Linked DNA regions of Homo sapiens. The protein of the gene in region 1 purifies or fractionates together with the protein of each later gene. This does not show direct contact. Each region holds a gene or a part of one and is shown on either strand. Other genes may lie near its edges.

Region 1 (8,476 bases):
TTTTTTTTTTTTGTGTGTGAGGCAGAGTCTCGTTCTGTCGCCCAGGCTAGAGTGCAGTGGCACGATCGCAGCTCACTGCAGTCGCTGCCTCCCAAGTTCAAGTGATTCTCCTGCCTCAGCCTCCTGAGTAGCTGGGATTGCAGGTGCCTGCCACCACGCCCGGCTAATTTTATTTTTATTTTTATTTTTATTTATTTTATTTTATTTTTTGAGACAAGAGTCTCACTCTGTCGCCCAGCCTGGAGTGCAGTGGCACGATCTTGGCTCACTGCAAGTTCCACGTCCCGGGTTCACGCTGTTCTTCTGCCTCGGCCTCCCGAGTAGCTGGGACTACAGGCGCTAACCACCACGTCTGACTAATTTTTTTTTGTATTTTTAGTAGAGATGGGGTTTCACTGTGTTAGCCAGGATGGTCTGGATCTCCTGATCTCGTGATCCGCCCGTCTCGGCCTCTGAAAGTGCTGGGATTACAGGCATGAGCCACTGCGCCCAGCCAATTTTTTTTGTATTTTTAGTAGAGATGGGGTTTCAGCGTGTTAGCCAGGTTGGTCTCGAACTCCTGACCTCAAGTGATCTTCCCGCCTCAGCCTCCCAAAGTGCTGGGATTACAGGCGCAAGCCACCACGCTGGGCTTCATAGTTGGTTTTCAATAAATGTTTGTTGGTTGAATTAGATGAGAATCTTTATTAAGCTGAATTTTTGGTGTCTCTCATAGGCATCTAAAATATGTCACAGTTATGAGAAGGCGAAACATTTCATTCTCAACATCTTTTCTATATATAGTCATCATTGGTGTCCTCTGGGGATTGGCTCCAGGATAACTCCGTACCCCCACCCCATACCAAAATCTGAGGATGCTTAAGTTTCTTAAGTAAAATGGCATAGTGTTTGCATATAACCTATGCACATTCTGTTATATAGTTTAAATCAACTCTAGATTACTTAATAATACCTAATGCAATGCGTGTTCTGTAAATAGTTGTTATACTGTATTTAGGGAATAATGACCAAAAAGAAAGCCGGTACATGTTTAGTACATACGCAACTATCTTAGACCTAACTAGGTACATAGTACATGTCAGCAACAATATAACATTTTCTGTATTTTTTTTCTCCCCTGAAATGAATATTTTCAATTCCTGGTTGATTGAATCTGCAGATTAAACCTGCAGATATGGAGGGCCAACTGTACATGTGTTTTCTAATATTTTAAAAACAACATTCTGTAAACTTCCTTAGTTTTTTTAAAAAGGAAAGAATAGACAGAGTATTGGTAGAAACTTTAGATCATATAGGAAAAATTTTAGAATTGCTCTTTAATAGATAATGTCTAAGAAAAGGAATCCTGGAACCATTTCTAGAAGATTGTTTTATTTCTTGATATTTTCCTTTAATAAAATTAGTTCATTTTCATCCAGATAGGCCAGCTATTTCAAAAAAGATGAAATGTTTAAGACACTTAAAAAGGTGTACTCATTACCTACTGTCCAAACGGGGACATTGCTACTATAGTTGAATCCTTATGGAAGACATTCTCTGTCTTCTACCCTATCATTCCTTTTCTTTTCTGTATACTTTTACTATATATGCATTATATCCATAAGTATGCCTTGCACTTAAACTTTTTTTTTTTTTTTTGAGACAGAATCTCGCTCTGTCTCCCAGGCTGGAGTGCAGTGCTGCACTCTCGGCTCACTGCAAACTCCGCTTCCTGGGTTTGCGCCCACCACCACGCCTGGCTAATTTTTTGTATTTTTTCATAGAGATGGGGTTTCACCGTGTTAGCCAGGATGGTCTCGATCTGCTGACCTCATGATCCGCCTGCCTCGGCCTCCCAAAGTGCTGAGCGTGAGCCACCGCGCCCGGCCTAAACTTTATTCATTTTATATACACTGTGTTTACTTCTAATTTGCTTTTTTTGCTCAAGGTTTTGAAGACTTAATCTTTGTTGATTGTTTTTACAGGTTTATATACAGGTTTATAGATTATTGGTTTACTCTTACCTCCTCCCCACCAAGTTTTACCTCAGAGACATTTGAGCTTCAAAGATGTGTCAGGCATTGTGCTACCCACTGAGGTTACATAGGTAAACTTTTCTGAAAAATCAGTCAAATGGAAAGGTTCTTAATCACTTAGGGGAATATCTGTTAACTGTATTATCTACAGAGAATTCCAGAACCAGGGCAAGATGCTCTATAAAAATATCCCCCTTAAGCTGGGCATGGTGGCTCATGCTTGTAATGCCAGCACTTTGGGAGGCTGAGGCTGGAGGATTGTTTGTGACCAGGAGTTTGAGACCAACCTGGCCAACAAAGTGAGACCTCGTCTCTTAAAAAAAAAAAAAAAAAAAAAAAAGAAGAAGAAATAAAAATATTCCCTTTAACAGAAAGCTGGTTTATTTGATGTTTCCTTCTCTTTTTAAAATTTTTGTGGGTATATAGTAGGTGTATATATTTGTAGGTTACATGAGATATTTTGATACAAGCATGCAGTGTATAATAATCACATCAGGGGGGTAAATGGGGTATCCATCACCATAAACATTTGTATCGGGGAACCTGCCCCGATAGTCACGTAGGTTCTTTTCTATTTTCCCTAAGCATCAGCCAGTTTGAGAAATGAAGGGACAGAGTACAAAAGAGAGAAATTTTAAAGTTGGGCGTCCGGGGGAGACATCACATGTCGGTGGGTACCGTGATGCCCCACAAGCTGCAAAACCGGCAAGTTTTTATTAGGGACTTTCAAAAGGGGAGGGAGTGTACAAATAGGGTGTGGGTCACAAAGATCACGTACTTCACAAGGTAATAGAATATCACAAGGGAAATGGAGGCAGGGCGAGATCACAGGACCACAGGACCAGAGCAAAATTAAAATTGCTAATGAAGTTTCGGGCACCATTGTCATTGATAACATCTTATCAGGAGACAGGGTTTTGAGAGCAACCGGTCTGACCAAAATTTATTAGGTGGGAATTTCCTCTTCCTAATAAGCCTGGGAGCACTATGGGAGACTGGGGTTTATTTCACCCCTACAGTTTCGACCATAGAAGACGGCCATACCCAAGGGGGCCGTCTATAGACCCACCCCCAGGCGTGTATTCTCTTTCCCAGGGATGTTCCTTGCTGAGAAAAAGAATTCAGCGATATTTCTCCCATTTGCTTTTGAAAGAAGAGAAATATGGCTCTGTTCCGCCCGGCTCACCAGTGGTCAGAGTTTAAGGTTATCTCTCTTATTCCCTGAACAATTGCTGTTATCCTGTTCTTTTTCCAAGGTGCCCAGATTTCATATTGTTCAAACACACATGCTCTACAGTTTGTGCAGTTAACACAATTATCACAGGGTCCTGAGGTGACATACCTCCTCCTCAGCTGACAGGATTAAGAGATTAAAGACAGGCCTAGGAAATCACAAGGTATTGATTGGGGAAGTGATAAGTGTCCATGAAATCTTCACAATTTGTGTTTAGAGACTGCAGTAAAGACAGGCATAGGAAATTATAAAAGTATTAATTTGGAGAACTAATAAATGTCCATGAAATCTTCACAATCCACATTCTTCTGCCGTGGTTTCAGCCGGTCCCTCAGTTTGGGGTCCCTGACTTCCTGCAACACATTTGTCCTTTATGTTGCAAAAAATTAGATTCTTTTAGTTTTTTTTAAATGTACAATTAAATTGGTTTTTACTATAGTCACCCTATTGTGCTAGCAAATACTAGGTCTTATTCATTCTTTCTATTTTTTTTGTACCCATGGGTGATTACCTTTTTTTTTTTTTTTTTTTTTTTTTGAGATGGAGTCTTGCTCTGTCACCCAGGCTGGAGTGCAGTGGCGTGATCTTGAGTCACCACAGCTTCCGCCTCCTGGGTTCAAGCAATTCTCCTGCCTCAGCCTCCTGAGTAGCTGGGATTACAGGCGCACGCCACCATGCCCGGCTATTTTTTGTATTTTTAGTAGAGACGGGGTTTCATCATGTTGGCCAGGCTGGTCTCGAACTCCTGACCTCAAGTGATCCTTCCGCCTCGGCCTCCCAAAGTGGTAGGGTTACTGGTGTAAGCCACCATGCCCAGTCTGATGATTACTTTTTAATGGTGCCCATATTTTGATTTAGAAATTCAAAACTCTATTTGGAATGAGAATAATAATTTATAATTTCTTTTTAAAATAATACTTATGGGTCGATCATGGTGGCTCACGCCTGTAATCCCAGCACTTTGGGAGTCTGAAGTAGGCGGATCACGAGATCAAGAGATTGAGACCATCCTGGCCAACATGGTGAAACCCTGTCTCTACAAAAAATACAAAAATTAGCTGGGTGTGGTGGTGCGTGCCTGTAGTCCCAGCTACTCGGGAGGCTGAGGCAGGAGAATCACTTGAACCCAGGAGGTGGAGGTTGCAGTGAGCTGAGATCGCACCACTGCACTCCAGCCTGGCGACAGAGTGGTCTCAAAATAATAATAATAATATTAATAATAATAATTATGGAGCAGTAAATTAGCTACTAATGCTAGATATTCTCTTTTGGTAAAAATCTGATTTACTTTTTGGTGTCTGGAGTTTTTTTTTCATTGTAACTTTTTGAGAGATATTTAACCATCATAAAAAAGTGATAGACTTGTCTCCCCAATTAAGTAATACATTAAAGGTTTATGGGAGCTGTATTTGAGGAATCTGTGATTGGAAAAAACGTAATTTATAGTTCAATTAAATAAAATCTTAATATTCATTTAAAAAACATTAAACAGCCAGGCGCAGTGGGTCAGGACTATAATCCTAAGAATAGGGTGGCTAAGGTGAGAGGCTGAGGTGGGATGATTGCTTACACCCAGGAGTTTGAGGCTGTAGTGAGCTATGATTGTGCCACTGCACACAAGCATGGGCTGCAGAGTGAGACCCTGTCTGTAAAAAAGAAAAGTTGAATAAAATTTATTTCCTTATTTCACTGATAATTACATTGCAAAAGTTTTTTCTTCCCCTCTAGTGTGAGCTTTGGGTCTTTATTAAGAATTGAAGTTAATCATAATAGTATTTTGTATGTGCTTTAACCGTGAATTTATTTTTATAGGATTTCTATAATTGGCCTGATGAATCCTTTGATGAAATGGACAGTACACTAGCTGTTCAACAGGTAATAAAAATAGTTTCTTTTCACCCTGTGTCTTTTGGAGTACGATGTGTAAGTGCCCATTGGGTGGCCTTTGTCTGTTGGTCACTGTGCAGCAGTCTGCTTCCCAATAAAGCGTGCTCTTTCACAAAACAAAACAAAATAGTTCCTTTTACAACTCCAATAACCTAAGCATTTTACCTCTGACATAGTTAAGTATTCTTATATCTTTTCGCATAGAGAAGATTCCACTGAATTAATGGAATGCCTATTTAAAAGTTTAGTCAACCCTCATTTTGTTTTAAGATGGCATATTAAGCTGGGCACTGTGGCTGCCAGCACTTTGGGAGGCCAATCACTTGAGGCCAGGAGTTCAAGACCAGCCTGAGCGACATAACAAGACCCTGTTTCTACGAAAAGATAAATTAGCCAGGCATGGTGGCACACACCTGTAGTCCCAGTAGCTAGGGAGTCTGAGGTGGGGAGATCACTTGATCCTACTTCAAGGGTCTAATGAGCTATGATTGTGCCACTGTACTTCAACCTGGGTGACAGAGTGAGATCTTGTATCTTAAAAAAATAAAAATAGCCCAGGTGTGGTGGCTCACAGCTGTAATCCCAGCATTTTGGGAAGCCGAGGCAGGTGGATCACTAGGTCAGGATATCAAGACCATCCTGGCCAACATGGTGAAACCCTGTCTCTACTAAAAACATAAAAAATTAGCCAGACATGGTGGCATGTGCCTGTAGTCCCAGCTACTCGGGAGGGCTAAGGCAGGAGAATCGTTTAAACCCAAGAGGCGGAGGTTGCAGTGAGCCAAGATCATGCCACTGCACTCCAGCCTGGCCAAAAGCAAGACTCTGTCTCAAAAAAAAAAAAAAAAACAAAAACAAAAACAAAAATACAATTTCATTAAGGGGCTAATAAAAAGATAATATAAATTGGAGCGTACTAGTATATTGGATTAGGCATTGGTTAAATTTTTTTTGTTTTGAATTTTTAGTAGAGACAGGGTTTTGCGATGCTGCCCACCTTGAACTCCTGGGCTCAAGCAGTCCACCCACCATGGCCTCCCAAAGTGCTGGGATTGCAAGTATGAGTCACTGCACCTGTCTTTTTTTTTTTTAGACGGGGTCTCACCCTGTTGCCCAGGCTGGAGTGCAGTGGCTCAAGCATGGCAAAATGTAGCCTCAACTTCCTGGGCTCAGGTGATTGTTCTACCTCAGCCTCCCAAGTAGCTGGGACTATAGGCGCACACTGCCACATCTGGCTGATTTTTTGTAGAGATGGGGTTTCACCATGTTGCCCTGGCTGATGATAACATTTTTAAAGGGAAAATATACCATAAATCGAGGCTGTTTGGCTTCATTTTGATAGCCAGATAATAAAAGTAGATAGCTGGCCGGGTGCGGTGGCTCACGCCTGTAATCCCAGCACATTGGGAGGCCAAGGCGAGCGGATCACCAGGTCAGGAGATCGAGACCATCCTGGCTAACATGGTGAAACCCCATCTCTTACTAAAAATATAAAAAAATTAGCCGGGCGTGGTGGTGGGTGCCTGTAGTCCCAGCTACTCGGGGGCTGAGGCAGGAGAATGATGTGAACCTGGGAGGCAGTGAGCCTGCAGTGAGCCGAGATCGTGCCACTGCACTCCAGCTTGGGGGACAGAGCAAGACTCCATCTCAAAAAAAAAAAAAAGTAGACAGCTATTCGGATTTGTTATGTTATTTGAAGATCTTAGAAAATAAAAGAGACATATAGTTGAATTATTTGAGCATTAAAAACCACCCATCTGGGTGTGGGGGCTCACACCTGTAATCTTAGTACTTTGGGAGGCCGAGGAGGGAGGATCACTTTGAGGTTGGGAGTTTGAAACCAGCCTGGACAATATAGTGAGACCCTGTCTCTGTAAAAAATAAAAAGGTTGGGCTAGGTGGCGTGCACCTGTAGTCCTAGCTACTTAGGAGGCTGAGGTGGGAGGAAAGGGTTTATGGTGAGCTGTGATTGCACCACTGCACTCCAGGCTGGTGACAGAGACCCTATCTCAAAAAAAAAAAAAAAAAAGAAAAAGTGCTGTTCAATCAGCAAATATTTATTGGCTTCTCACGATATAGCTAGCAATGAGTTAGGCCTTGTGGAAGATAAAGGAATATAAACCTAGATCTAGCTCTATGCCTAGAAATTGGTTAAATTTTGAAGAAAAATGTACAGATGGTTATCTCTTTAAAAATAGGGGGAAGTGTCCTGTTTGTTGAATTTGTTCATTTATTCTCACAGGTTTTTTGGATGTGAAATCATTAGGGTTTTCTACATACGAGACCCATGTCATATAATTTTACTTCTCCAATCTAGATCTGTTTTCTTTCTTTTTCTTGCCTAATTGCTCTGGCTAGACCTTCCAGTACTACTTTGAATAAAAGTGGTGAAAAAGGGCATCTTTGTCTTCTTCCTGATCTTAGAGGAGAGCTTTTAGTTTTTCACTGTTGAGTATGATGTTCACTATGGATTTTTCATATATGGTCTTTATTATATTGAAGTTGTTTCCTTTATTCGTAGGTCATTCAGTGCTTTTTAGATCATAAAATGGTGTTAAATTTTGTCAAATGCTTTTTCTGCACCTATTGAGATGATCATGTGTTTCTTTTTCTTACTTTTTTTATTTTTTTATTTTTTTGAGACAGTCTCGCTCTGTCACCAGGCTGGAGTGCAGTGGCGTGACCTCAACTCACTGCAGCCTCTGCCACCTGGGTTCAAGCGATTGTCCTGCCTCAGCCTCCTGAATAGCTGGGATTACAGGCGCCCGCCCCTGCGCCTGGTTAATTTTTGTAGTTTTAGTTAGAGACAGGATTTCACCATCTTGGCCAGGCCGGTCTTGAACTCCAGACCTCGTGATCTACCTGCCTTGGCTTCCCAAAGTGCTGGGATTACAGGTGTGAGCCGTCACGCCCAGCATTAATTTTTCTTTAAATGTTTGGTATTTTCTTTAAATGTTTACTAGTGAAGTTGTTAGGCCCAGGGTTTTCTTTGGTTGCTCAACATTGGGAATATAATTAATGCCACTGAATTGTACACTTAAAAATGGTTTAAATGCCTTTCCTTTCTTTATTGAATGGTCTCAGCAGCCTTGTCGAAATCTTTTGGCCATGTATGTGACACGTTATTTCTGGGTTCTTTCTTTATTTCTGTTTGTCTGTATGTCTATCCTTATGCCAGTATCACACAGTGTTTGATGACTGTAGCTTTGTAGTAAGTTTTGAACTCAAGAAGTGTGAATCCTCCAACTTTGTTCCTTATTTTATTTTTCTTAATAGAGACAGAATTTTGCAATGTTGCCCAGGTTGGTTTTGAACTCTTGGCTCAGGTGATCCTCTTGCC
Region 2 (4,899 bases), on another chromosome or scaffold:
TTTCATGCTTGTGACACAGACAGACAGCAAAACACCACGGCTTATTATCTTCCCATTGTGTACACCACTCACAGGACGGTGACAGTCCAGGTATTGCACTGGATCTCGGCTTTGCTTAACAGAAAACAACCCTGCTACGGTTGGAAAGAGTTACCACTTAAAACGATTTGGTCAACTTGCACCAAGAAGTAGGTTGGGAACAGGTGTTTTCAGGTGAGCGTGAAACCCCGCAGTGGAACGCTGTGTGCTGCAAATTGCTTATTAATCAGAGAAGTGAGTCCTACTAACTTCCTATTATTACAAAAGTAGAAAGACTGAAAAAAAAAATGAAATCTGAAAATGATCTCATTTGCTTAAGGCTGCACTGAGTGTATTGCAAACAAACAAACAAACACCGGGAAGTCCACTTCGTAAAATGCAGCAGCCAATAGGTGAAAATAATAAAAGAAAGAACTTTTTTTAGGAAGAAAAACACTTGCCCTGTCTTGTGTTGAACGGATGTGTGTGTACTGTTTTTCAGGGGCAGGGTGGAGGGAAGATGTCATTTGGCACTCTCGTAATGACAATGTTTTAATACTGGCACTAGCTAAAGAACAGCGCCCCCAGCGGATGCCAGGACTGGAGGTGGGAGCGCTGTTCATTCAGACGCTGAGAGGTCGGGGTTAAAAAACGCGGCTGTGGAGACAGGAGAGCTGCTGGGAAGCCATGTTTTTGATTTTCAGACAGGTGTTAATTTTACCAGGCTTCATTAATACAGAAGAAAGGAAACGTCTTCCAGGAAAGCAGCCACTGCGGAAACGAGTGTGTCCGGCCATCAATACACAAGAGACTCTTTGTGACTCAACACGTGGGGTCGCGAGGCAGAGCTGGTGGCACTGCGGATCACTTCCATCCACCTGCAACACGGGAACGCCAGTTAGTCAACCTTTTGTTTGGACGGACTCCTGACACTTTGGTGGGCATCGCTTACAGAAACACAAGGTGAAGTCAGGCCGCCTGGTTGGTAATCTGCCACTTCAGCAGAAGAGCAAGGGAACAGCCAGCACCCAGGCGTTCCTGAGGTACAGTGGAGACCCACTGGCCTGGGCACTCACTCAGTGTGGAGCTGGAAGTACCTTGCTGCAGTGACACTGCCCGCTCCATTGGAGCAGTTAGGAGCGAGGTGGCCTCTGGTTGCTGGGGAGAACGCTACCTCCTATTTTCATGGACATGGCAGAGAATGGCGGGACGTGTCCCATCCTGCTTAGTGGAAGCTCTCCCTTCCTTTTTTCTTTTTCTTTTTTTTTTGAGACAGGGTCTGGCTCTGTCACTCATACTGGAGTTCAGTGGTGCAGTTATCGCCCACTGTAGCTACCTCCTGGGCTCAATCGATCCTCCAGCCTTGGCCTCCCAGGAGATGGGACTACAGGCTTGCACCACCACGCCCAAATCTCCCTTTTTATATATTTGTGTATTTGCTCTCTACCGGTGCTTCTCAAATGGGTGCAATGCTGTCCCATTTGGTAAAGTCTGGAGACATTTTTAGATGTCCCAACTGAGGGGTTGCTGCGGGCATCTAGTGGGTGGCCAGGGATGCCGCTGAACATCCTGCACAATGCAGGACGGACTCCCCAAATTACCTGGCCTTGTCCCAGGCCTTTCAGGATCTGGACTGCAAGGCTGGACCCTTTGTCACAATAATAGCAAAATCCCAACTTTGATCAACCCAGCTCTCAACCCAGCTCTCGAGCTCAGTCCAGGATCAGATTTGAGAATGGCTCTCCTCTAGGTTCCTTTTTCAGGTGATGTTGTTTAGGAGGTGCTCAGCATATTGCTGAGGACCCCTCCCCTTCTGCCTCCCGGGGCGAGGAGGGCTCAGCAGGGCAAACTGCACAAGTAGTCGGCTTGGGGATGCAATTTGCAGAGGCCCAGGATCTCTATTCAAAATATGAATTGCAGGAACAGTCTTAGGCCTGACTGTTGCATTTCTTTCTTGGCTAAATGAAGTCTGCAGTCCCTGCCATTACACCATGTAGGCAGTCTCACTGGGGCTTAGCTTCATCATCCCGGACACGTTATGTCAGAGATCTCCAAGCAAGATGTCTAGGGCCTCAGCCAACACCGTGCAGGGTAAGGGCGCAGGGAAGTTGGGACCCCACTTTCTGCCATGAGAACAGAATCGCCTGCTGGTGTCGGGCAGTGGGACCCCAGGTCTAAACGCTTAGTTGGCAGGGAAGGGTGGGGCCATCTCACTCGCTGACTTGGGAGAAATCCTGATGTTTGGAAGAGGGGGTCCTCTTCTGCAGGGCCCTGTGCGTGGGAAGGGGGTGTCTACCTTTCGAACGTGTACTCGCTTTCCGCCCTGAAGTAGTAGACGTGGGACTTGAAGTGCAGCTTGAACACGTAGTCTTTCTGGATGTTCTCGGACTCAGAGGGGATGGTGAGCGAGTAGCCGAGCAGAGGCAGGCTGGCAAGGGGATGATTGTCCTGGAAAGGGGAAACAAAGCAAAGTGGCTTTTCGGGGTCAGCTTCTGCTGCTGGGCCTGGCTGCTGCCCCGCATCAGACAGGGACTTGGGAGCCCAGGCAGCTCCCTCCTCGGGCGTGGGCCTGGAAGGGACCATGGCAGCCAGTGTTTGCCTGTACGTGATGGCCCGGGTGGCAAGTCCCGCCAGGACTGAGCTGTAGATAAAGCCAACCCCCGTCCCTTGTCCAGGCAGAAGACAGGTGGCCCTTCCTAGGGCAGAAGTTGTCCTTCAGTGGATGATAATGTCAGTCTTCCCTAGAGTTGAGGGCCTCGGGTGGACAGGGCCCCCCGCCAGCATCCCTGTCATCCCCGTGACACCTGGAGCCCAAGAGGCCTGAGTCATTCCAGAGGAGGGCGGCCCCCTCACCTCATGCTGCCACCCCCAAGGTCCCAGGGCCACCTGCCCTGTGCGAGACACTTACCTGGTGTGATTTGTAGAAGAACAGGCAGAAGTTTGTGAACACCACCCACAGCTTCTGCCACCCGTTGCTGTTTTTGAATTTCCTCAGCAGGTTTCCAGACAACTGATTCTGAAAGGCAAGGAGGCCTGTGAGAAGCACAGCGGGCACCTGCCCCAGGAGGGCACAGAGAGCAGCTCTCCCTGCACCAGGGCCCTGGGCTGGGGCATGTCCGTGACTGAAGGATGTGGGCCCCACCCCCGCTCCCCCGTGTGTGGGGAGACTTGGCAGGTCCTGGGACCCTGATCTCATCACTTCCCCTTGTCACTTGCTGTGGGGCATCTTGGGGTCCCTGTGTCCCCCCAAAAGACACGTTGAGGTCCTGACTACCAGTACCTTAGAACACAGGCTTATTTGGAAATAGGCTCGTTGCAGGGTAACTAGTGAAGACGAGATCACACTGGGGTAGGGTGGGCCCTAAATCCAACGGGAGTGGTGTCCTGAGGAGAAGAGCCACCTTGAGGGGAGAGGGGTGTGCCCTGTGACACCGAGGCAGAAATGGGGGCGCAGGACCCCATGCATTGCCAGCAGGCGGAAGCTGAAGGAGGGAAAGATCCATCCCAACAAGCTCAGAGCAGCACTCGTTTTGAGGGGCCAGGCACCCTACCCAGGAAGTGGGGCCTGGGGTGCATGTGAGTGGCTCCCACATGCCCTCTAGTGGCCCAGGAGGCAGTTGCAGCCCTGCCCACCTCCAGGCTCAGGGCCGGCCCAGCCCCTGGAGCATTGTTAGGATGCGCTGCAGCCCAGCTAGGGGGCAGGGACAGGCACCTGTGTCCATGCTACCTCCAAACAACTCTGAGCAGGCCTGACGCACTGGTGGCTCATTTCGTCCCTTTGCCAAAGTGACATCACCAGCAGAGACTCAAAGCAGTTGCACCACCTTGTAAAGGCACTTAATGCCACTGAATTGTTCCCGTAAAAATCGTTAAGTTGGCCAATATTGTGGTATAGCTATTTTACCACAATAAAAAATACAGACCTCCGAGTCTGCCTCATTCCATCTCTCTGGGTGCCCCTGGCACTAAGCTTCTGTGCTGGGAGCTGGGATCAAATGGTCTGATGTCCCTGCCCTCCAGTTGCTCAGGGAGGGTCCAGTGGGAGACATGGACACTGACAGTAGGTCCGTGAGGGGCTGCAGGATGTGGGGGACCCCGCAGACGGGGAGAAAGGGCATTCCAGGCCAGGCAGGCAGCTCCAGCCATCCATCCTCCTCCCCCAGTGGCAGAAAGGAACAAGAAAATGCAAGGCTCCAGGTTCCCAGAAGGTCCTGGTGGTGGCCAGGGCTGGGCTGATGCCCATGCGGCATCTTGGGTCACGCAACATGGAGCAAGGAGGGTGGCACACTCCCCTTTCCTAGGTATTTTCATACTGACTCACATAATTTTCACACAGCAGCCAGCCCACAGTGGGGTTCATACATGTCACCCATCACAGTCTGGGCCCATTTGTTTCCAAAGCAGCTTCCTTAGCGCTCTCTAGCTTCTGCCTGGCCATTCCAATAGCCTCTGGAAACCTCTTTATCAATAGGCACATCCAGCGGCCCTTCCTCGCTCCCCACGGCCGGGCCGAGCCTCCCGCTCCCCTGTGTCGGGTCCATCCTGGCCTCCAGCGTGTTACGGGCCCTGCGCGCCATGAGTCTCCTGCCCTGCACTCAGGAGGCCGAGGCCATGCTGGTGGCTCCCAGACCTGTCTCCATTCACTGCCTTCACGAGAGGGTCAACATCCTTGTTCAGAACCAGACCAGCCTGCCCTGTCTCCTCGTGGCCCTTCATTGGGGCCACCGCTCCTCTCCCTTCTTGGATCCCATTCCCTCAGACCCTGCTGTGGGTTGAATTGCACCCCCAACAAGTCCAAACCCTCCGTGCCTACAATGGTGACCTCACATGGACACAGGGTCTCTGCAGATGCGATCGAGTCAAGGTAAGGTCACTAGGACG
Region 3 (8,476 bases), on another chromosome or scaffold:
TAAGTTACAATATTTTTAACGGGTGTAATGTTGGTCGGGGCCTTTGTGTATTAAGTAACTATTTGTTAACACAGGAGGATTTATTTTTGTAAATAGAAGTGCCAAGCAAGTGGTATTTTTCTCTTTCTGAAACAAACTGCTTACTTGTGGCTTCAGTTGACATTCATTTTTATTGTGATAACCTGTAATTTCATGAGTCTTAAAATTTATGCCTTAAACATCTCTCTCCAGCTCTAATGCGAAGTGAAATGTACAGGTTTGAAATGATCTGAGTCAGTTAACCTGACTATGAGCATCAGAATACAGACTTGAAGTTATGGGTAAAGTGTTAGTTGAATCAGTTTTTCCCATTGACTTCCTTTTTTTGTTTTATTTTTGTTTTGAGACAGAGGCTCAGTCTGTCGCCCAGACTGGAGCGCAGTGGTGCCGTCTCTGTTCACTGCAACCTCCACCTCCGGGGTTCGAGGGATCCTCCTGCCTCAGCCTCCCGAGTAACTGGGATTACAGGTGCATGCAGCCATGCACTGCTAATTTTTGTATTTCTAGTAGAGATGGGGTTTTGCCATGCTGGCCAGGCTGGTCTAGAACTCCTGGCCTGAAGTGATCCCTCAGCCTTCCAAAGTGCTGGGATTACAGGCGCGAGCCTCGTGCACAGCCCCTATTGACTTTCTAATAATTTTAAGATGAACTTCTAGAGAAGAATATTGTACCACTGCTGTACTTTGAAATAATCACACCGGAGTGTCAACGATCACTTGAGGAAGCTTTCTGTATTTGTCAAAAGAGATTATTTTTACTTCGGCTCCTAAATAAATCAGACTAACAGTTCCTAGGACTTCACAGGTATATTTAAGATTATCTCTTGTATCTTACTAGCCTTTTTTGGGGGCGGGGGGGGGACGCAGTCTTGGTGTGTCAGTCAGGCTGGAGTGCAGTGGGGCAATCACCGCTCACTGCAACCTCAACTTCTGGGGCATAAGGGACCCTCCCACTTCAGCCTCTCAAGTAGCTGGGACCACAGGCATGTGTCACCACACCGGGATAATTTTTTTATTTTTTTTATGGGGTCTCACCGTGTTGCCCAGGCTGGTCTCGAACTCTCGGGCTCAAGTGATCCTCCCGCCTTGGCCTCCCAAAGTGCAGGGATTGCGGGAGTGAGCCACCACTCCTAGCCCATTTTTTTTTCTTTGAATATTTGTCCTTACCCACAAAGCATGAATTTGTTAGTGAAATTCATTCATCTTTGTTCTCTACCCCCATTGATGGAGTTGCCAATGGGTTGGAAAAGTGTGATAATACTCATTTCTCTCTACTCTTTTTGAGCCGTGCTTAGTTTTGCAGCCCTCTTCTGGCAGCTATGACCTAGCTTTGTGGTTTGTGTATGTATGAGTATATATACATATATATGTTTTCTGACCTTAGTTTCTAGTTCCGTTTTATATCCCTACCCCATCCTCCTTGTTGATACATAACAAGTGTAGCATTCATCCTGTCTGAGTTCCAGTCCTGCTTCACAGCTTGCTAGCTGTCAGTCTTTCTGCACCTCTGATTCCTTATGACAGAGATAATATGTACCAATCCTCCCGGGTTGGTTGTGAGTGCTAAGATATATATTCATTGGCCGGGCACAGTGGCTCACGCCTGTAATCCCAGCATTTTGGGAGGCCGATGCAGGTAGATCACTTGAGGCCAGGAGTTCAAGACCAGCCTGGCCAACATGGCAAAACTCTGCCTCTACTAAAAAAAAAAAAAAAAATTAGCTGGGCGTAGTGTTGCACTCCCAGCTACTTGGGAGGCTGAGACACAAGAATCCCTAGGAGGCAGAGGTTACAGTGAGCAGTGATCATACCGCTGCACTCCAGCCTGGGTGACAGAATGCAGTTTTCTCAAAAAAAAAAAAAAAAAAAAAAGGCCATGTAAAGTCCTAATGAGAAGTAAGCACGCAGTGAATGTTAACTAAAGGAAGGCTGAAAGTTTTAATCATAAGTGTCACCCATTTTCTTTTGTAAGAAATGCAAAATGAATAGATGTGCCAATATGCCTTTTCTTTGGTAAATATACTTCAAAGGAGTTTTTTTTATATAGTGGCTATAGAACCCTGAAAAGTAGTGGTGCCTGTTATGTGAACCACACAGTACTGGAATTAATAGCAGTTGTGTGAAGTATCTTTACTCCTGACTTGGTCTACTTAATACTTGCCCTACCTTTCTAGGGCAAGAGTAGCAGGCATGTAGAAAGAAAATATGAGAAAAATAAAGAGTCAAACCTAATTATATAAACTATCTTTAATCCTTGTGATTCAATTTTTGGGTTTTTTAAAAATACCTTTTTTTATTCTATTGGAAATACTATTCTATAGGAAGTTACATCGTATGATGGTGGTTTTTCCTTAAATTTCTATTCTAATTCAGATTGCCTAAAAACTGAAGGAGTCGGCTGGTCATGGTGGCTCACCCCTGTAATCCTAGCACTTTGGGAGGTCGAGGTGGGCGGATTGTCTGAGCTCAGGAGTTCGAGACCAGCACGGGCAACATGGTAAAACCCTATCTCTACTAAAATACAAAAAATTAGCCGGGCATGGCGGTGTGTGCCTGTAGTCCCAGCTACTCGGGAGGCTGAGGCAGGAGAATTGCTTGAACCCAGGAGGCAGAAGTTGCAGTGAGCCGAGATCGCCACTGCATTCCAGCCTGGGCGACAGAGTGAGACTCTGTCTCCAAAAAAAGAAAGCTGAAGGAGTCCACTGAAATCAAGACCAGAGTAGTACTAGTAAAGGCCTATTTTGAGGTAGTTGCAAAAATAAAATCTATCCTAGTGCCAGTGGGTGAATGACTACAAAAAATAAAGAGTATGAATGGTATGGTGTGTCTGGCTTCCAAGGTTAATTTCTGCCTAGTGAAAAATTGTTTGCATAAAATAGCAAGGCATGTCTTCTGAGAAGACTAGCTCTTAACACTAGCTTAAATTAGCAATCCAGCTTTTGAAGCTAATTGTGAATTTGACTCCTCTTGTGTGTGCAGAGAAATTGCTTCTGTGATTCATTCCTGCATCAGCAGTATGCAGTTATTTTAGAAGATTGTGTGCCAAGAGAGCCAGGCTGGCACTGCTCAGGACACTCTGTGACTAGAACTATATTTAACTGTTGTCTCAGAAAGAGTAAAAATTTTAAGCTCTTTGACCTGTTAAATTTTATAACTGAAGAACCTTGGTGATGATTCTTTAGGTGGGGAGGGAAATTCAGCCAATGTGTGTGCTGGCAGATCTTTATTCTGATGATTATAAAGTACGTATTGAGAAAAATGTCGAGGCTTGTGTAGAAGTATAAATATGTAAATTTTATATTGAACTGATGGAAATGTTTCTAAGTCCTGGCGTTAGCCTTGAAATAAGCAGAAATAACTTTAGGATATGACTTCATTCCTAATGTGAAATAGTATGCTTGTTCCTGAATACCCAAAACCATCTTAATGAAGATTAGATTCTGGTAAAAATGAGTGATTTTTGTGAATTGAGAAAATTTTTTTAGATTACTTTCTGTGATTGATTACAGCTTAAAAAATAAAAATAGTGGTCTTGACAGGCAAAATGCCTAACTGGTACTTCCATTTTTAATTTCCCTCGAACAAAAATTAGTGCCAGCTTTGGTGGTCCATTGATAAAATCTAAAATGCAGTGATAAAATAGCTCCTTTCTTAGTATAATGAAGAATGGCATGATTACAGTGAAATAGAGGGTCAAGACCCAATTCTAGTGACTGAACAAATCATTGTTTTCCTTGCTAAGCCAGCCTCTTAGTGGACAGGTAAAGAAATTAAACCAAACTAGACTAGCATGAACTATTGCTAATGGCGGGAAAGTGGACTTTGTTACATTTCTCTACTTTATATATGACGTGTCAAATATATATGACTAGGTAAATATATTTAATACTTAATACTGCCCTTTAACAATAATATACCCTTGCCATAAGATATTTACCTAAGTAGATAAAGTGAAGATATTTGCAATGTAAAATTTCTTTTCATTGCCTGCTTTTATTGCCGTGTGTGCCTTTTATTCTTATTTGAAGATCTTGCAGAAATTTTTTCTTCACAGTCTTTTCTCTTCAGTACGAATGTTATAAAAGACTTGGTGAATGAAGCCCTTCCTTGGTAAAAGGAAATGAAAATGCCAGAAATTGAAGATGGAATTAATGCTTAATTAATTTTCCTAGATTGTTTTCTGAATGTAGTTTTTTCTAAGAAGAATGATATTAAAGTTACAGAAGTAATCTGTATAAGAAATCTGAGTCTGTGTTAAATAGAAATTTTTTATTGTTTTGAACTGATTTCCTTCAAGTAAATGTAATGAAATGTAAACCTAATCCAGATTGTTTAAAGAAACTTGTATGAAGACATCTTTTCTTCCTTAATGACCAAATGTGATCTAATAGTTCCTGTACGTTACTTTTCAACTCTAAATTTCATTAATAATCATATTAACGGCCGGGCATGGTGGTTCGCGCCTGTAATCCCAGCACTTTGGGAGGCCAAGGCAGGCGGATCATGAGGTCAGGAGATCCAGACCATCCTGGCTAACATGGTGAAACCCCGTCTCCACTAAAAATACAAAAAAAAAAAAATCAGCCAGGCGTGGTGGCAGGCGCCTGTAGGCCCAGCTACTCGGGAGGCTGAGGCAAGAGGATGGCGTGAACCCAGGAGGCAGAGCTTGCAGTGAGCCGAGATCGCGCCACTGCATTCCAGCCTGGGTGACAGAGGGAGACTCCATCTCAAAAAAAAAAAAAAAAAAATCATATTAACCCTGGGAAGGAGTTCTGTGTATTACAGATTCCGTTTCCTTTCCAGAGAATGGGAGAGCTCAAGCACTCAAGCTTAGAACTGGTTTGCTGTTGTGTCCTTTGTAATTTAGAAATATTTATCATCATTCCTTGTAAACTGTTTTTTGACTGAGATACTTTTGTGATCAAATGAATTAAAAGACAATCCTGAGGTGCAACCTGAGATTCCTGACTTGCGTTATAATAGCATCATGTTACACCAAAAATGTGGAAGACTCCATTGGAGATCTATTAAGTGAATATTTTATACAAAGACAATCGTTTTTATGTTGAGACTGGGATACAGTGGTGAATTTAAGTGTTCTCACCTATTCAATCTTAGAAAAAAGCTTATTTGAATTAACTTTTTAGCATAGTTGGATTTTTTTTAATATGCAGGATACGGTGTGTAGGCTGTAGTTTAATTTTGCTCAAAATCTCTTTTTTTTTGTTTTTTTGTGATGGAGTCTCTCTCTCTGTCATCCAGGCTGGAGTGCAGTGGTGCCATCTCGGTTCACTGCAAGCTCCGCCTACCGGGTTCATGCCATTCACCTGCCCCAGCCTCCCGAGTAGCTGGGACTACAGGTGCCTGCCACCACTCCCGGCTAATTTTTTGTGTTTTTAATAGAGATGGAGTTTCACCATGTGAGCCAGGATGGTCTCGGATCTCCTGACCTTGTGACCTGCCTGCCTCAGCCTCCCAAAGTGCTGGGATTGCAGGCGTGAGCCACTGCGCCCAGCTCAAAATCCCATCTTATAGAGAGGGAAATAATTTTCATCTTCGTTTAAAAGAGTTCCGCATGATATTTATGTCCTGGATGATGAGAGCTCAGAATTGGTTCAGTGTATTCTCGACTTGGCTTGAGTAGCAAAAGAGGCGCTTGTTCCTGTGGGCAGTGAAGAAGAAAGGAGAGGATTGGTTGACAGAATGCTGCCACTGTGTAGTTATCCCGTACATTCAACAGATTTTAGTTGAACCACTATGTACCAGACTGTTCAAAGTGCTAGAGATTCAGCTGTGAAGAGGGGACACGATTAATGAACACCAGGCATTGATTCTTGCTGGCAAGAAAAAGCAGAAGATGGGGACAGTGATGGGCTTGAATTCAAGAGACTCTTTTTTTTTTAATAGGGTGGTCATAGAAAACCTTCCAAATTCTTTATAATGTGGTTTACTTTTGTAATTAAAAAGGATTTTGCGAGAGTTAGAAGGCACAGTCCCTAACACTGTTCTCACCTCTGACACCATCTTCAAAAGTTTAGTCATGATGTACCTTCAGAACAGCAGACAAAAAATAAAGTTCAGTGAACTATAAATTACAGGGAACACTGCCCAGGACTGCCTCAGTTTTGGCACCAATATACTAGTTCAGTGGGTTCCGAAAACCACTCTTAGGTTCAGTGATTCACAGGAATGACTCACAGAACTCACTTTAAGCTGTTACACTGATGATTATGGTTTATTACAGGGAATGAATACAATTTAAAGTAAGCCAAGGGAAAAGACTCATAAGGGCAGAGTACAAGAGGGGCTGACATCTGTAGTGTCCAGTCCTCCAGAGACCAAACTGATAGTGGGATCATCCAAAGTCCGCATCGTGAGTCACATTGTTAATGGTCCGCAGGTCAGAGCCCCCAGGCAGAGATCTCTTTACCAAGCAGGAAATTCCAGGGGCAAAGGCCAGACCTCTCCTCGGGTGAGGTTAATTCTTCACTATACAGATTTTTATTCCATAGCAAATTCTGAGGGACGAGAACCTTAATAATAATAAATGGCAATACCAAAATACATGAAGAAAACAAGGCTAGATTTATCAGAATTGTGGAGTGTGTGCAATGTGAGGGATTTTTCCAGTTGAGTTGGCATATTCTTTTTTTGTTTTAAGTTTGTATTTTGTCAACTGGGCACAGTGGCTTATGCCTGTAATCTCAGCACTTTAGGAGGCCGAGGCGGGCGGATCACGAGGTCAGGGGTTTGAGACCAGTCTGGCCAACGTGGTGAAACCCCATCTCTACTAAAAATACAGAAATTAGCTGGGTGTGGTGGCACGCGCCTGTAATCCCAGCTACTTGGGAGGCTAAGGCAGGAGAATCACTTGAATCCAGGAGGCGGAGGTTGCAGTGAGCTGAGATGGAGATCGCGCCACTGCACTCCAGCCTGGACGACAGAGCAGGACTCCGTCTCAAAAAAAAAAAAAAATTGTATTTTGTCTTTTCTTGGTTGTATAAATTCTCCAAAAGTTAGCCATTTAAAAATGTTTAAGGTCTTATTTTCTACTTTGTGATATGTGTGTATAATTTTTACTGTGCAAGTTTTAGCATTTTTGTATAGTCTGATTGTCCATCTTTTCCATAAACTTTAAGCGCACATGAGAATCACTTGGGAAAGAAATAGGAAATTCATGTTCCTTGACTCCATTCCAGAGACTGATTGACATGTCTTGGGCAGGTCCAGGAAGCTGCTTTTTTTTTTTTTAAAGGCAGGATCTTACTGTCGCCTAGGCTGGAGTACAGTAACATGATCATAGTTCACTGCAGCCTTGTACTCCTGGACTCAAGCCATCTTCACGCCTCAGTCTCCTGAGTAGCTGAGACTACAGGAATACACAACCACACCTGGCTTTTTTTACTCATTTTTTTGTAGAGACAGGGTCTCCTCATGTTGTCCAAGGTGATCTTGAACTCCTGGACTCAAGTGATCCTTCTGCCTCGGCCTCCAAAAGTGCTGGGATTACAGGTGTGAGCCACTGCCCCCGGCCTCCTTTGTGCTTTCAGTGTCATGAAATACCTGTATTTGTCAAGAAGATTAAGACCATGTCTTAAAAAAAAACAAAAGCTAGTGAGATACAAGAGATAATCTTAAATATACCTATAAAGTCCTAGGAACTGTTCGTCTGATTTATTTAGGAGCCGAAGTAAAAGTGATCTTTCCTGACAAATACAGAAAGAGATTTTTGCTAGCATCACTTCTTCCAAAACAATTTTCCTCATTTATGCAATAAGTTTGGATTTTCACTTCTTTATGTCACTAAGTTTCTGCGTGTTGCTAAGTTCCTGGCTGCATATTTGGAGTCTCTCCAACAGCAGCATTGTCAGCATTCCCACAGTCGGTTCTTCCGTGTACTTTTGATTTGAATTTCATTTCCAGGGTTATGTCTTGTGTGTTTGGCTTCTCTCTTTTAGCATAATATATCCAAGATTCCTCCATATTGTAGCATGTATCTGGACTTCGTTCCTTTTTATGGCTGAATAAAATTCCATTGTGTGGATATTTTATAATTACTGCCATCTGGAATTTGTTTTGAAGTTTAAGAAGCCAGGTTTTTTCCGTTTGAAAAAGTAATACAGAATTTGTTTTTTAAAATTTCGAGCATTGGCCAGTCACGGTGGCTCAGACCTGCAATCTCAGCACTTTAGGAGGCTGAGTGGGAGGACTGCTTGAGCCCAGGAGTTTGAGGCTGCAGTGAGCTACGTTCACACCACTGCACTCCAGCCTGGGCAACAGAGCGAGACCCTGTCTCAAAGAAAATTTGTGCAAGCACCTCAGAAAGGTAGCAAGGAAAGCAAATGCACTCTACCCACCATTCCTGTCCCCTGCCCTCCTACCTCCCAGACAACCATTATGTTTCTGTATATAATCTCCTCAGCCATGTTCTTCATATG
Region 4 (8,476 bases), on another chromosome or scaffold:
ATCATCATTATCACTATTTTCCACCTCCACATCATATCCCACTGAAAGGTCTTCAGGGGCAGTAACATGCATGGAGCTGTCATCTCCTGTGATAACAGTGCCTTCTTCTGGATACCTCCTAAAGGACCTCTCTGAAGGTATTTTACAGTTAATGTTTTTTTCTTTTTAATAAGCAGAAGGAATGCACTCTATAATTAACAATAAAAAGTATAGTACATGCATAAACTGATAAAGTCATATAATACTATTATGTATTATGTACTATATATAATTATATGTGCTATACTTTTATATAACTGGCAGCACAGTAGGTTTGTTTACACCAACATCTCCTCAAACACGTGAGTAATGCCCCCTTGTGTTACAATGTTAGGATGGCTATGATGTCATTAAGCGATAGAAATTTTTCAGCTTCATTGTAATTTTTGGGGACTACTGTGTATATGCAGTCTATAGTTGACTGAAATGTTGTTTTGTGGTGCATGACTGTGTATGTGTGTATGCATAGATATATGTCTACATACACACAGTGTGTATGTATGTGTGTGTGTGTATAAAATGCAAACCTGAAACATTTGTTAGCTTTTTCTATTGTATGTTTTTAAAAACTTGCTCTTCCAAATTATGAATAAAAAGAAAACAAAAAACAGGTGACTTGTTTTCTATTATGGGAGAAGTTGCAGTTAGAGAACCTCTAATAGCAGTACTTTCAGCCCAACAAATGAGACTAAAATGATGTGGCCCATATACATGGAGTAGCCATTTCCTATCTGCAGGGAATATGTTCCATGACCCCCAGTAGATGCCTGAAATCACAGATAGTACCAAACCCTATATCTACTATGTTTTTTCCTATATATACACATACCTATGATAAAGTTTGACTTATAAATTAAGCATAGTAAGAAATTAACAATAATAATAAAATAGAACAATTACAACAGTATACTGTTATGTGAATAAAAGTTATGTGAATGTCAACATTCTGTCTGTCTCTCTCAAAATATCTTGTACTGCACTATAACTGAAACTGTGGAAAGGGAAACCAGAGATAAGCGGGGACTGCTGTATGTTTTACAAAGTACTATCAAGTTTCACTACTTTAAAATACATCAAGTGGGATGTAATATGAAAATATTTTAGAATATGCTGAAAATTGATCACTCCTCAAAAGAATCATGATGAGCTTATTAGAATCTGTTTTGTGATTTGTAATACTAGGAGGCCTTACATCGGGAACAAATGTTGGAACAGAAGTTAGCCACGCTTCAGCGGCTACTAGCCATCACCCAAGAGGCTTCAGATACCAGTTGGCAGGTATTCCAGTTGTTTTATATTTAAGAAACATTTAAACATAGTTTAATATTCCATACATGTTAAATAAACTAAAATGTAGCAAACAAAGACAAAGTTATTTCCTAACTAATGAACAAGTTGTTGAAGATTTAGCATTTTACAGTGGATGCTGGTCAGTTTTACGCTTTTATATCTTTTGTTGTCAGTAGCAACCTTTTTTTATATACATGTGACTTTATAATTACTCGGGTTTTACTTACATTTAATTTTTCTTCAATAGGCTTTAATAGATGAAGATAGACTCTTATCACGGTTAGAAGTTATGGGAAACCAATTACAGGCATGCTCCAAAGTAGGTATTAACCTCAAATGTGTAAAATGAAATGCATAGTTTTTTATGTAACATCATTTCTTTGACTATCATTTTGAGTATATGCTAAAAACTTCATACATTTCCACAATTCTTTTAAATCTTTTGTGCTGAGAAACGTCAGACATCCATGTAAATAAAAATAATTACATAATGAATACCCATGTACAAGTCTGTCTTTTTTCTATTGCAGTTAATATTTCTTGAAAAAACTGGGTCATTTGTCCTCTAGAATTTCCCTCAGTCTGCATTGTTATTTAAACATTTTTTAGCTCCCCCTCCCACTCCATAAAGTAGTAGTTCCATCTAGAGATTTGATGTGATTTAGGTTCAGTTTTTCTTTTTGTCAACAACACTTTATGGATGGTATTGTGTTCTTCCACCAAGGGACAACATAATGTCTAGTTGTCTTTCTTTTTGAGATTTTTATCAATCATTGATGATCCCAGGCTAGATCCATTATTTCATTACGGTTACAAATAAGGCTGGGCGCAGTGGCTCACACCTATAATCCCAGCACTTTGGGAGGATGAGGCGGGCGAATCACCTGAGCTCGAGAGTTCAAGACCAGTCCAACCGACATGGAGAAATCCCATCACTACTAAAAATACAAAATTAGCCGGGCATGGTGGCACATGCCTGTAATCCCAGCTACTCAGAAGGCTGAGACAGGAGAATCCCTTGAACCCAGGAGGCAGAGGTTGCAGTGAGCCAAGATCGTGCCATTGCAATGTAGCCTGGGCAACAAGAGTGAAACTCTGTCTCAACAACAACAACAACAACAAAAAAGTTACAAAAATAATGATGTAATTCTGTTATTCCTTCACTTATTTAGCTGGGTTACTTCTATAAAGAGAAGTTTCCTTCCATACACAGTGGCTCATGCCTGTAATCCTAGCACTTTGGGAGGCCAAGGCAGGCGGATTGCTTGAGGTCAGGAGTTCAAAACCAGCGTGGCCAACATGGCGAAACCCCGTCTCTACTAAAAGTACAAAAATTAGCTGGACATGGTGGCATGTACCTGTAATCCAAGCTACTCAAGAGGCTGAGACAGAATTGCTTAAACCCGGTGGGGGTGGAGGTTGCAGTGAGCCAAGATCGCACCTCTGAACTCCAGCCTGGGCGACAGAGCGAGACTGTCTCAAAAAAAAAAAAAAAAAAAGCGGGGGCAGTTTGAGACCAGTATGGGCAACATGGCAAAACCCAGTATCTACCAAAAATTAAAGATTTGCTTAGCATAGTGGTACATAACCTGTAGTCCTAGCTACTCGGGAGGCTTAGGTGGAAGGATCGCTTGAGCCCAGGAGTTTGTGATTACAGTGAGTTATGATCGCAGAACTGCGCTCCAGCCTTGGTGACAAAGAGAGACCCTGTCTCTAAAAAAACGAAAAAAGGAAAAACAATGGCCATTGTTTTTTGTAACTTTGGCATCAAAAACCAAATACCACATGTTCTCATTTATAAGTGGAAGCTAAGCTATAGGTATGTAAAGGCATAAAGAGTGCTATAATGGACATTGGAGACTCAGAAGTTGGGAAAGTGAGAGGGGAGTGAGGGATGAAAAACTCCCTATTGAATACAATATACACTACTCAGGTAATGAGTGCACTAAAACCCCAGACATCACCACTACATAATTCATCCATGTAACCAAAAACCACTTGTATCTCTAAAGGTATTGGAATAAAAAAATTTAAATAACCCTGAGGTATGTTTTCTACGGGGAAAGCAAGATAAGTGATTTTCTCCCCTTATTTATTAGATTTCAGAATAATGAATTGGTGGTTTTTCATCTACCAAAGACTGGCCATGAAGTGTTTTCTCACTCCACTTAGATTTAAACATATTTGATGTATTTAAATCTGGTGCAGTTGTTTTTCTTGTTTTAGAGACAGGGTCTTGCTATGTTGCCCAGGCTGGTCTTGAACTCCTGGGCTCACGCAATCCTCCCATCTCGGCCTCCCAAAGTGCCACGGCCAGCCTATTTTTCTTATTGATGCTCAAATTATCCCATCTTTGGTCTGTGTAAATGTCTTCAGAGTGATAGCTTCATGCTGTCATTTCAGACAAGATGTTTCAGGCTCATTTTGTACTTTTCCTGCCCCAGACATGAAGTCTGCTTTTCCCCCATGGTACTCTTATTCCTTTTGTTTTAACCATTGTTTCAGAATGCTTGGTGCCTTTGAAGGTAATTGATTATTTTTGCCTACAAATGTGAATATGGTGGCTTGCAGAAAATATGACAAATATAAAAGTAACTAATTTTGTATATTTTAGGGAAATTCTCAATTGCCTATAACTTTTTTTTTCTATAGGAAGTGGAAATTAGTAAGTTTGTGAAGGCATAATTTACTTATGCAACTTGTAAATACATCTTTAGTTAATACAGGGCCAGAATCATTTATGTTTGGAGGTACCTTAATATATAATTTAAAGTATATCATAATGTGTTAATTTTTTTCAAACAATAAATGCTTTTAAAAAATAACTTGTCTATAATTATAAATATCTTTTATTGTAGAATCAAACAGAAGATAGTTTACGAAAGGAACTTATAGCATTACAAGAGGATAAACATAACTATGAGACAACAGCCAAAGAGTCCCTGAGGCGGGTTCTTCAGGAGAAAATTGAAGTGGTTAGAAAACTTTCAGAAGTTGAGGTATTTCAATCAAAAAAAAAATACTAAATAGTATTATGAGTGTTCAAAAAAATCTCAAGCATTCCAGGATACTTTAAACTTGGGTATTATTATATAGTTAGGAAATACTTTCTGTCTGTCAGGTGGGAAGGAACAGTTACGCTGCTTTCATTGACAGCAATTCTCCATGTGAGTTTTGGTACTTACTCCCTAGTCAATGGCTGAGGAAATAAAAGCGTAACCAGGGAATCTTATTGTTTGCATTCTGCTTAGGATTCACCCTCCATACAGCAGACCATGATATGTGCTGGGGAATTGATTTCCTGTCACTTGGTTTTGCTTTGCTTCTATTTGAGGGGGGTCAGTGTAAGGCCAAGAGTCTACACTACTTGTTCTTTTTTAATTCACTCTGCAGAGAGGAAAACTAGCTGTGTCATATATTTAGGAAGTTCAAAGGTGAAATCATCTCCAAGGTCCTTTCTAGGTCTTGGAGGAGCAATCAAAATGCAATTTTTATTGCTTTGGGGAAAAAAATTCTAATTCATAATATAGATCTTTTCTTTGAACCACTGCAAAATTACCACATAAATAATGTATTACTAGAATTAGTTAAAATGCTCATCAGAAACTAAATGGTAAACATACCTTTCCTTACTACAGGTATAGTTTGTATTGCTACCTCATCCCATAGTGCCTGATTCACTGTTGTGTGATTAATTTGATATATAAAGAAAGTTACTAAGTGTCTTTTAATTTTTTATTAAATTGATTGCTGGATATTATTAAACTTGCTTTCAAGGATTGATAGGCTTAAAATATTTTCACAGCTAAAAGTCATACCCATTGGCCTTTCAAAAATGTAATTATATAAAGGCAGCATCCTTTTCCTGCCCCTGCTCTCCCTCCACTTTTATTTTTTTGTTGTTTTTGTTAATTCTTAGTTATGTTTTCTGTTTTAGTGTGAATTGAAATTCTTATGTTATTTGACTCAGCTTTATTTAAAGTCCAGGGCAGATGTTGATTTAGAATAGTCCATAGAATTATACTTTTTATAAATTTCATTTAGAAGGAATTCTAAATAACAAATATACACTTATTCTAATTAAATTGCCTGTAAACTTGAATCGCAGCGAAGTCTGAGTAATACTGAAGATGAATGTACCCATCTGAAAGAAATGAATGAAAGGACTCAGGAAGAATTAAGAGAATTAGCCAACAAATATAATGGAGCAGTTAATGAGATTAAAGATTTATCTGATAAATTAAAGGTATGTATTTACTCTGCCTGAAAGTATGTTAAGCTAATAATCCCTAACACACTAGATAGCTTAAGATTTTAGGTATTGCTTTAGCTGGGCGTGGGGTGGCGGGCGCCTGTAATCCCAGCTTCTCAGGAGGCTGAGGTAGGAGAATTGCTTGAACCCAGGAGACGGAGGTTGCAGCGAGCTGAGATCACGTCACTGCACTCCAGCCTGGGCGACAGAGCGATACTCCATCTCAAAGGAAAAACAAACAAACAAACAAACAAAAAACAGTTTGGGCCAGGCGCAGTGGCTCACGCCTGTAATCCCAGCACTTTGGGAGGCCGAGGCGGGCAGATCATGAGGTCAAGAGATTGAGACCATCCTGGCCAACATGGTGAAACCCCGTCTCTACTAAAAATACAAAAATTAGCTGGGCGTGGTGACACATGCCTGTAGTCCCAGCTCCTTGGGAGTCTAAGGCAGAAGAATCACTTGAACCCAGGAGGCAGAGGTTGCAGTGAGCCAAGATTGCACCACTGCACTCCAGCCTGGCGACAGAGCAAGACTTCGTCTCACAAAAAAAAAAAAAAAAAAAAAATTCAGTTTGAAAACCACTGGTATAGATAGATATTTTGAATTGATTTGCATAGTCTCCTTGAATGTGTTAAATTATGCTGAAAGTATGAAAGCAGGATGTAGGTGGTACTACATATTAAATAAGATTTCTATAAAAAAAGATTTTAGGTATTGCTGAATAGTTATTGATGTAAAAATTTGGTAACAGTTGAAATTTATAGTGAAAATAAGGTGTCTGTATTCCATTTAGCCCAACCTCCATTACTATAGATAATTGAAAGCCTGTAAATGCTGACATAGTTCCTCTGGATGAATATGTAGTCAGTGCTTCACAATAGACATTTCTAAAATATATAACAGGAAGTAGATGAGAATCAGCAAAACCCATGATATTCAGATGTTTTAAAACCTAAAACTGCTTATCATTAGGCCATCTAAAAGGCAGGGCCCAGCTATTTAGTGCTGTGCTGGAACAAGCCCAGAGAGAATCTGGGAATGATCTCCCTTTTAGCTTTCAGGGATGCTGTTAACTCTGCTTTAGCTGCCATTCCCTCTATCTATGAGACATCTAGGATAAGGACAGATCAGATCATAGGGTAATGATAGGGTAATGTCTAGTTGGTCCTTTAGAATCTTATAACTGAGGAAAAAAAAAATCTTATAACTGTTTGTGAAGGTCCATCTTGGTTTAATTCAAACTATGGATTGAGTGCCTAGAAGATATGTGTTTGTTAGAGAAGACCAGAGCATACCTCCGTTGGTTAACCTATGATAGTTTTCAAAGTTGGTCTTGTTAAAAGGAGATTGTCATTGTCCATTTTTGTTGCTATAAAGGAATAGCTGAGCCTGGGTAATTTATAAAGATAAGAGGTTTATTTGGCTCACAGTTCTGCAGGCTGAAGCTTCAGGCTGCTTCCACTGATGGCAGAAAGCAAAGTGGAGCTGGTACGTGTTCCATGGTGAGAGAGGGTCTGGGAGAGGTGCCAGGCTCTTTTTAAAAACCAGCTTTCATAGGACTAATAGAGTGAGAATTCACTCATTACCATGAGGACAGCACCAAGCCATTCATGAGGGATCTGCTCCCATAACCCAAACACCTCTCATTAGACCCCATCTCCAACACTGAGGATCAAATTTCAACATTGAGGCTTGGGGGACGAACATCCAAACTATAGGCAGAGAGGTCTTTTTGAATAGTGATTGTACTGTCATCTCGTTACTAAATAATTTTGTTTAAAATTTCAGAATGTTAACATGATAGAACTTCAAAATTGAAATGATAGTAATTTTAGGGAAAAATCTTACTTCCCTCTTTAAAAATACGATTTTTTTTTCCACATTGACCCTTTACCTCTGTGTGTACTGAGCCTACTTGCTTCCTCCAAGTTTCTCTCTCCTGGGTGTTATGGAGGAATAACCCAATGCAGATAATTTTTGACATCAAGCCTTTGTCTTTATCATCTTTACTGGTTTAGAAATGTCAGGTTAGCCGGGCGCAGTGGCTCATGCCTGTAATCCCAGCACTTTGGGAGGCCAAGGTGGGCTGATCATCTGAGGTCAGGCGTTCGAGACCAGCCTGACCAACATGGAGAAACCCCGTCTCTTCTAAAAATACAAAATTAGCTGGGTATGGTGGCGCATGCCTGTAATCCCAGCTACTTGGGAGGCTGAGGCAGGAGAATCACTCGAACCCGGGAGGCGGAGGTTGCCTAGGCAACAAGAGTGAAACTCCATCTCAAAAAAAAAAAGAAAGAAAGAAATGTCAGGTTTACAGATAATGTTCTGTAGAACATTTCTTTTCTACAGAACAAACTTTTCTTAGAAGTTTAAGTGAATAAAGGCATTCCTGGGGCTCGCTCTTAAAACAGAGTTAGGTTTGTTAAATAACTGAATTTTCTTATTTTTCTAGGTAGCAGAGGGAAAACAAGAGGAAATCCAACAGAAGGGACAGGCTGAGAAAAAAGAATTACAACATAAAATAGATGAAATGGAAGAAAAAGAACAGGAGCTCCAGGCAAAAATAGAAGCTTTGCAAGCTGATAATGATTTCACCAATGAAAGGCTAACAGCTTTACAAGGTAAGTAGCTAATCCAGAAATTGATTTTATTTTATTTTTTTTCTTGTTATCTGTGAAATATCTTTTTTTTTTTTGGACTTTTATTTACAGTACGGTTAGAACATCTTCAGGAGAAAACTCTTAAAGAATGCAGCAGCTTGGGTAGGTGGCATCCATATTTCTTACTTAAACCTGAATTTTATCCTTAAACTTTTGACCTTGTTTACTGTCTCACACTGCATTTTTTAAGGGATGTTTTATGTATTAGGTATAAAGTATCTATATTCTTTTA

What was found.
Region 2: the proteins of MOB4 (region 1) and STK24 purify together in Homo sapiens (affinity purification with mass spectrometry; 4 studies listed by BioGRID and IntAct, with this or other methods). This does not show direct contact.
Region 3: the proteins of MOB4 (region 1) and PPP2CB purify together in Homo sapiens (affinity purification with mass spectrometry; 6 studies listed by BioGRID and IntAct, with this or other methods). This does not show direct contact.
Region 4: the proteins of MOB4 (region 1) and SLMAP purify together in Homo sapiens (affinity purification with mass spectrometry; 3 studies listed by BioGRID and IntAct, with this or other methods). This does not show direct contact.

The regions. Positions count from the first base shown.
Region 1 is NC_000002.12:197,518,563-197,527,038, forward strand, and holds part of MOB4 (MOB-like protein phocein), read left to right. Parts: intron 1-5,061; coding exon 5,062-5,124; intron 5,125-8,476. Other genes in the region: HSPE1-MOB4 protein, read left to right, coding at 5,062-5,124.
Region 2 is NC_000013.11:98,444,233-98,449,131, reverse strand, and holds the end of STK24 (serine/threonine-protein kinase 24 isoform b precursor), read left to right. Parts: 3' UTR 1-814; coding exon of another isoform or gene 815-896; 3' UTR 897-2,314; coding exon of another isoform or gene 2,315-2,466; 3' UTR 2,467-2,926; coding exon of another isoform or gene 2,927-3,034; 3' UTR 3,035-3,947; downstream 3,948-4,899. Other genes in the region: FARP1 (FERM, ARHGEF and pleckstrin domain-containing protein 1), read right to left, coding at 815-896, 2,315-2,466, 2,927-3,034. UniProt on the Homo sapiens protein: Serine/threonine-protein kinase that acts on both serine and threonine residues and promotes apoptosis in response to stress stimuli and caspase activation.
Region 3 is NC_000008.11:30,802,357-30,810,832, reverse strand, and holds part of PPP2CB (serine/threonine-protein phosphatase 2A catalytic subunit beta isoform), read left to right. Parts: intron 1-8,476.
Region 4 is NC_000003.12:57,856,512-57,864,987, forward strand, and holds part of SLMAP (sarcolemmal membrane-associated protein), read left to right. Parts: intron 1-1,221; coding exon 1,222-1,317; intron 1,318-1,576; coding exon 1,577-1,648; intron 1,649-4,187; coding exon 4,188-4,328; intron 4,329-5,437; coding exon 5,438-5,575; intron 5,576-8,036; coding exon 8,037-8,205; intron 8,206-8,295; coding exon 8,296-8,346; intron 8,347-8,476. UniProt on the Homo sapiens protein: Associates with the striatin-interacting phosphatase and kinase (STRIPAK) core complex, forming the extended (SIKE1:SLMAP)STRIPAK complex.